Linked DNA regions of Homo sapiens. The protein of the gene in region 1 purifies or fractionates together with the protein of each later gene. This does not show direct contact. Each region holds a gene or a part of one and is shown in the gene's direction. Other genes may lie near its edges.

Region 1 (3,650 bases):
CTCCCAAAGTGCTGGGATTACAGGCATGAGGCACTGCACCTGGCCCCAGAACCCATTTTCTAGATATTCTTTCTCCCAAGAAGACAGTGAAAGAGAGCTGGGCATCTGTGGAAAGGGCAGCAGCTTTATAAGAGAGACAGGTTCTGGGCTGGGCGTGGTGGCTCAAGCCTGTAATCCCAGCACTTTGGGAGGCTGAGGCGGGCGGATCATGAGGTCAGGAGATCGCGACCATCCTGGCTAACACGGTGAAACCCCATCTCTACTAAAAATACAAAAAATTAGCCGGGCATGGTGGCAGGCGCCTGTAGTCCCAGCTACTCGGGAGGCCGAGGCAGGAGAATGGCGTGAACCCCGGAGGCGGAGCTTGCAGTGAGCCAAGATTGCGCCACTGCACTGCAGCCTGGGCGACAGAGCGAGACTCTGTCTCAAAAAAAAAAAAAAAAAAAAAGTTCTGTAACATCAAAGGCCATGTGTTGCCTATAAAACATAATTTTGGGCCGGGCGCGGTGACTCATGCTTGTAATCCCAGCACTTTGGGAGGCTGAGGCGGGTGGATCCCCTGAGATGAGGAGTTGAAGAGCAGTCTGGCCAACATGGCGAAACTCCATTTCTACTAAAAATACAAAAAAATTAGCCGGGCGTGGCGGCTCATGCCTGTAATCCCAGCTACTCAGGAAGCTGAGGCAGGAGAATCACTTGAACCCAGGAGGCATAGGTTGCAGTGAGCTGAGATGGCCCCACTGCATTCCAGCCTGGGCGACAGAGACCCCGTCTCCAAAAAAAAACAAAAAACAAATAAAAAAAAAAAAACCGTTAATTTTGTGTAGTTCTAGCAATACAGAGTAAATTTGTTGGTATAATTTCTGAAATAAATTTAGGCCAGCTTGATTGCAGGCATTTTTTCTCCCAGGGGAAAAAAGGGATTACGCTGCCTAGATTCAGATTCAGCGTTTAATGAGCACCTTCTGTATGCTTCGCACTATGCCAGCTTGCCAGACGTCATCTTGTATAGCTCTCACAAAAGACCTGAGAGTAGCTGTGATTACCCGCTTTTTGTCGGCGAGGACACTGAAGGTCAGGAAAATGGAGAGATGGGCTTTTTGCTGTCACTGCAGGGAACAAGGCAGGAAGAAGCAGCCTAATTGCAGGTTAGGGTTTTAAGTCAGGCTACTGGGACAGTTAAGACCTTGGAGCAGATCACTTAAGGGAGACTGTGGGTATGAAAGGTCAGAAATTCTGAGAAGCAGAGTCCTGAAGGTATGAGCACCTGCTGGGAGGTCAAGGGGGGATGAGGGGAGACCCAAAGCAAACATAAGAGGGAAGTCCTGACTTCAGGAGTGATTAGGGATGGGGTTGTGGTTGTCCACAGCATCCCCAGGGGGAAGTGTAACCTGGAAAAGCCCCAGTGGAAGCCCACAGAGGAGCCGCCCTCCCCTGGCTCCTGAGTTTGGCAGGGCTATTATTTTCAATCGTGTTTTCCAATAACTTTGCACCTTGGCAGAATCAAGCCAAGTGACTTATGCCTGTAATTGGCAGGGACTGTTTCCAGTTCTGGTGCATGTGACTGGGCCACTATCTTTGTGTTTAACCCCTTCCCCCACATATATCTGACCACACCCCTGCCCCCTCCCATACATACTAAGGGCAAATGATCTGACCCAGCCTTGCTTGGGGTGTGCTGTGTGTAAAAATACATGGGGTTGAGCCATTTCCTGCTGCTTCCGTTGTTGTATGGCGATAAGACACTGGGGACTCAGCTGTGGACAGAAAGATCCTCCAACAGGCTGAGAGGAACCAGGCACCAGGGGAGCAGGTCTCAGGCCTCCCCGCTTTCAGCCCACCTTACATTTCCCATCTTTCCTATCTCCTGTGACCTTTTCCTCCTTTCTCTCCCTCCCCATCATCCTTTCTTAGTCTCTCTTCTCCTTTCCTTGTCTCTCCGACTTTGGTGCCACCCTGATGCACTCGGGAAGCCTGCCCGCCTGGTGGGGAGTGAAGGGGGCTGTCATTTCCTTCCTACGCATTCACCCTCTGCAAAGCTGGGCGGCTAGTAGCCTCAGGCCCCCAAACTGGTCCCTGCTTCCCTTGGCCTTTGAGTTACTTCTGGGGCTTTAGTCCTCGGGGACCTGGCCAGCAGGGTGGGGGTGGGGCATGCTCCTCTCCCAATTCTCGGATACTAGGAAGGACTGGGGGCTTCCACCATTATGAAGCGGAAAAGGTTACCAATGACTCTGGAGAGCCGTAAGGTAATGGAGGGCCTGGGAGAGGTGTCAGCAGAGGCAGGGTGGCCCGCTGAGCTGCGTTGTTAGTGAACATGGGGTGGCGAGGGCAGGCAGGCAGGGCACAAAGTGTAGGCGGTCAGCCCTGAGGGAGAGGCCTGCTCAAGGCAGGAGCCTTATGAAGTGGTTGAGTCCAGAGAGAAAATTTGTCTCATTCCTCAGAAATCCAACCCCATGACTCCAGTGAGGCCTCAGACCTGCCTGGTCCATGTGCTGGAGCTTTAAGAGCTCTGGGCTGGGGCCAGGCGTAGTGGCTCACACCTGTAATCCCAGCACTTTGGGAGGCCAAGGCAGGCAGATCACTTGAGGTCAGGAGTTCGAGACCAGCCTGGCCAACACGGTGAAACCCCATCTCTACTGAAAATACAAAAATTAGCCAGGCATGGTGGTGGGTGCCTGTAATACTGGCTTCTCGGGAGGCAGAGGCAGGAGAATCCCTTGAACCAGGGAGGTGGAAGGTGCAGTGAGCTGAGATTACGCTACTGCAGTCCAGCCTGGGCAACAGAGCGAGACTGTGTCTCAAATAGATAAACAAACAAATAAATAAAAGAGTTCTGGGCTGGAGGTTCTGTCCCTTCCTGGCCGTGTGTCCCTGAACAACTTGTTTGACCTTTCTGGGCCAAAAGAGGAGCAGCTCTGCCTAGACTGCATTTTGGGGATGCTGTGGGGACGGGGTAGAGAGCAGATGTGAAAGCCCTGTGTAAGTGGCTGTCAGGGATACTGCTCTTGTGGTGGTTGTCTTCTTTTGGACTCCTGCATCCATTTTCTAGATAGAAAAACCAAGTCCAGAGGCATCCAGGGGCACTCCTATGGTCCCAGGGTTTACCCATGCTTCCTCTGCCTGCCTCTTTCCCCAGGTCGATAAGGGAGACCTGGTGGCCCTGAGCCTCCCCGCCGGCCATGGTGACACCGACGGCCCCATCAGCCTGGACGTGCCCGATGGGGCACCGGACCCCCAGCGGACCAAGGCCGCCATTGACCACCTGCACCAGAAGATCCTGAAGATCACCGAGCAGATCAAGATTGAGCAGGAGGCTCGCGACGACAATGTGGCAGAGTATCTGAAACTGGCCAACAACGCGGACAAGCAGCAGGTGTCACGCATCAAGCAAGTGTTCGAGAAGAAGAACCAGAAGTCAGCCCAGACCATCGCCCAGCTGCACAAGAAGCTGGAGCACTACCGCCGGCGCCTGAAGGAGATTGAGCAGAACGGGCCCTCGCGGCAGCCCAAGGACGTGCTGCGGGACATGCAGCAGGGGCTGAAGGACGTGGGCGCCAACGTGCGCGCAGGCATCAGCGGCTTTGGGGGCGGCGTGGTGGAGGGCGTCAAGGGCAGCCTCTCTGGCCTCTCACAGGCCACCCACACCGCCG
Region 2 (3,650 bases), on another chromosome or scaffold:
GCCGAGATCACACCATTGTATTCCAGCCTGGACGGTAGAGCCAGACCCAGTCTCAAAAAAATAAAAATAAAAAAATTAATGTAATACAGCTACTATGAACCCACAAAAACTTTAAAAAAATTTTTTAATTATTAAAAAAATGTAATGCTGCTACTGTTTTGCTTATGTAGATTGTGGGCTAGAATAGGAAATAAAACTATCATTTTTAACACTTTTCTGGGGGGAAATATTATTCGAATTTCATAACAATTAGCTTGATGACCTTTTAGAATATATATGTAGACCATTGTGATGTTGGGGCTGCCTGTTGTAAATAGGATTTTTGTGAGCTTGATTGTACAAAATTGAAATTTGCAAACATCTTACTGAGTTTACTGTTTCCTTCTGGGTGTTAGGCCTACTGTAGAAATCAGAAAAATCGGAAATATTTTGTTGCTTGCTTTGTGAAACTCATGATGTGACATGGATTAAATTTCTAAAAAGTTTATTTAATTGCCTTTAAAATTAGTATGTCAAAAAGTTTATTTATTTATTTATTTATTTATTTTAATTTGAAACAGTCTCTCTCTGTCACCCAGACTGGAGTTTAGTGGCATGATCTCAGCTCACTGCAGCTACCACCCCCGGGTTTAAACGATTCTTATACCTCAGCCTCCTGAGTAGCTAGGATTACAGGGGCCCGCCACCACACCCAACTAATTTTTGTATTTTTAGTAGTGATGGGTTTTTGCCATGTTGGCCAGGCTGGTCTGGAACTCCTGGCCTCAAGCAATCCACCCGCCTCAGCCTCCCAAAGTGCTGGGATTACAGGCGTGGGCCACCACGCCCAGCCTCAAGTTAATAATTTATAATCCCAGCACTTTGGGAGGCCAAGACGGGCGGATTGCCTAAGCTCAGGAGTTCCAGACCAGCCTGGGCCATGACGAAACCCTATCTCTACAAAATTTTTTTTTTTAATTTATAATGAGAAAATAAATTTACATTTCCTTCTTAGGTCTCTAGAGGATCCATTTTTTTTCTGCAAAGCATCTGTCCACACCCTCTTACCATGCTTGTATGCCTTAAAGATCTAGCTTGGCCTGTCAGCAGTGTGCTTCATTGGGAATCGATGCAGCACCCTCCTGCCTGCAAGCTGACTAAAAGCCTTTTCCTTCTCCAAAGACTTTGGGACCATTTGTATTCACCAGGGAAAGGGTCAAACAACTCCTGCATCTTCTTCCCCTGCTTTTCTTGGCACATCTACTGATACTAGCTCCTAATTTGGGCAAGAAAAAAGTCAACAACTGGAGGTAGAGTGTGTTGACCCTGGACTCACCCTGAAAGGTAAGGGCACAAGAGATAGTTGTATTTAGCTGTATCTTGTTAGAAAAATACATTTGTGTAGCCAGGCGCGGTGGCTCACACCTGTAATCCCAGCACTTTGGGAGGCTGAGCCGGGTGGATCACGAGGTCAGGAGTTCAAGACCACCCTGGCTAACATGGTGAAATCCCGTCTCTACGAAAAATACAAAAAATTAGCCGGGCGTGGTGGTGGGTGCCTGTAGTCCCAGCTACTTGGGAGACTGAGGCAGGAGAATGGCGTGAACCCAGGAGGCAGAGCTTGCAGTGAGCAGAGATCACACTGCACTCCAGCCTGGGCGACAGAGTGAGACTCCGTCTCAAAAAAAAAAAAATAAATAACATTTGTGTGCATTCATGTGTACGTGTGTCTGTACACATGTACAAGAAACAACCGAGCATTTCTTTAAAAACCTTAGTCAGTTAGAACTGTCTCTGTTGCAGGTGACAGAAAACCCAGTCTAAACAGGCTTAAATATAAAAGGGCTGTTAGTTCATATAACTAAAAAAAGTCCAGGGCTAGAGTTACGGTCCATCTGCTTCTGCCTCCTTGGCCGTAGTTCCATGATTGGGCTCGGCACCATCAGACATAACTTCTTCCCACACACAGCTGTGCTCAAGCAGAAGCCCTCAGGTGGTCTCCTTGATCTGTGTGGGGCCTAGAGTTACTTCCACCACAGCAAAATCTCATTATTGTTGCTGCAGGAAAAGAATGGATACTGAGTGGCAGAAATACGAAACTGGATAAATTTTTGCCTTTATAAGACATTTGTTTCCAGTCCTTCTCAGACTGTATAAATTCTCCCAAGTCAGAGAGCAGAATTCTCAAACAAAAATGCAGGGACAGAACCAGGCACAGTGGCTCACAAGGCCTATAATCCCAGCACTTTGGGAGGCTGAGGCAGAAGGATCAGTTGAACCCAGGAGTTCAAGACCAGCCTAGCCATCATAGTGAGACACCATCTCTACAAAAAATTTAAAAATTAGCCAGGCATAGTGGCACACTCCTGTGGCTGAGATAGGAGGATCGCTTGACCCCAGGAGGTTGAGGCTGCAGCAAGCTGTGATAGTGCCACTGCACTCTAGCCTGGGTGAATACAGCAAGACCCTGTCTCCAAAAATAAAAATTTAAATAAAAATGTTTTAATTCAGGGACAAGCAGTTCTTGATTTTAAAGACGTATCTGCTTTATGTTGGGGCTATCAGAATTCCAGTTGCTAATTGATTAATCTGCTCTGTTAGGAGAACGTTTGTTGAATACCTGCCCTGCCAGGCTTTCTGCTTACACTGGTGGGGGGCACATTGACAAGATTTTGGGCTGTGTTTTCAGGGACCTCCAGCAGAGAAGGGTCACTAGGATACAATGTGGCATGCATGAGCTAAAAACAGAAGTGATTTAACTCTCAGAGGGAAAATGGATCAGATAACACTTCATAGAGATGACGACATCTGGTTCATTTTTGAAGAGTGAATAGAAAGATCCCAGCCCTCCATACCAAGAGAATAACTCCTGCAAACATTTTCTGACCTGGTGCCTGACCAATGGACCACACATCATCAGGAAGGCTAGAAAGTTGAGTTCCAGGAGGGAATGATAGAAGGCAAAGCCTAGAGAGATGGCAGGGGCCAGACTTCAGGGGCCTGGGGATGTGTACTTGCACTCCAAGTCGAGGAGACTGAACTTTTTACCAAAGACTTGGTGTTCTGTAGAAGTATGAGCAGATGAGTGACAAGATCTGGTTTATATGTTAAGAAGTTCTCAGCTGTAAGGTGAATAGATTGGAGGTGTTGGGGCAAAGGCAGGGGACCCAGTGAAGACAAGGAGCGAGGCTCTATACTGAGGCCCTGGTAGAAGTGGAGCAGATGGGCCACCTGAAGAGCTACTAGGAAGTTGACACCAATAAGATGTCGTTAGTCTGTGTATGGGGAGTGAGGGAAAGGAAGAACTTGCCAGTTTCCAGGTTTTAATCCTTCCAAAGGATTTCTGCAGAAAGACACTGGAAGAGCTGTATTCCTACTTATCCTTAAAGGAAAGAAACTGCCCTTGAATTCCAAGGACATGATTACTGAGCTGGAATTCCAAATAATGTGTCCCAGTGAGACTCCTGGGGGTAGTTTTGTCCGGTAACTGTGTGTGTTAGATGAAACTGCAGACTTCCAGCCACTCTATCTTACCATGTCTGTTAACAGTTAATTTGCTCTGATGAATTTGCCCATCTTGGAGAAGGGGGCTCTGCTGACTGTTTTTTATCTTGGAGTAAATGTCCTTTGATTAGGAAGGTTCTAGACTATATTGTTAAAACAACATTGGA

The links. The genes of interacting proteins can lie anywhere in the genome.
Region 2: the proteins of TMCC2 (region 1) and MARK3 purify together in Homo sapiens (affinity purification with mass spectrometry; 2 studies listed by BioGRID and IntAct, with this or other methods). This does not show direct contact.

The regions. Positions count from the first base shown.
Region 1 is NC_000001.11:205,265,814-205,269,463, forward strand, and holds part of TMCC2 (transmembrane and coiled-coil domains protein 2), read left to right. Parts: intron 1-3,136; coding exon 3,137-3,650.
Region 2 is NC_000014.9:103,486,385-103,490,034, forward strand, and holds part of MARK3 (MAP/microtubule affinity-regulating kinase 3), read left to right. Parts: intron 1-3,650. UniProt on the Homo sapiens protein: Serine/threonine-protein kinase. Involved in the specific phosphorylation of microtubule-associated proteins for MAP2 and MAP4. Phosphorylates the microtubule-associated protein MAPT/TAU. Phosphorylates CDC25C on 'Ser-216'.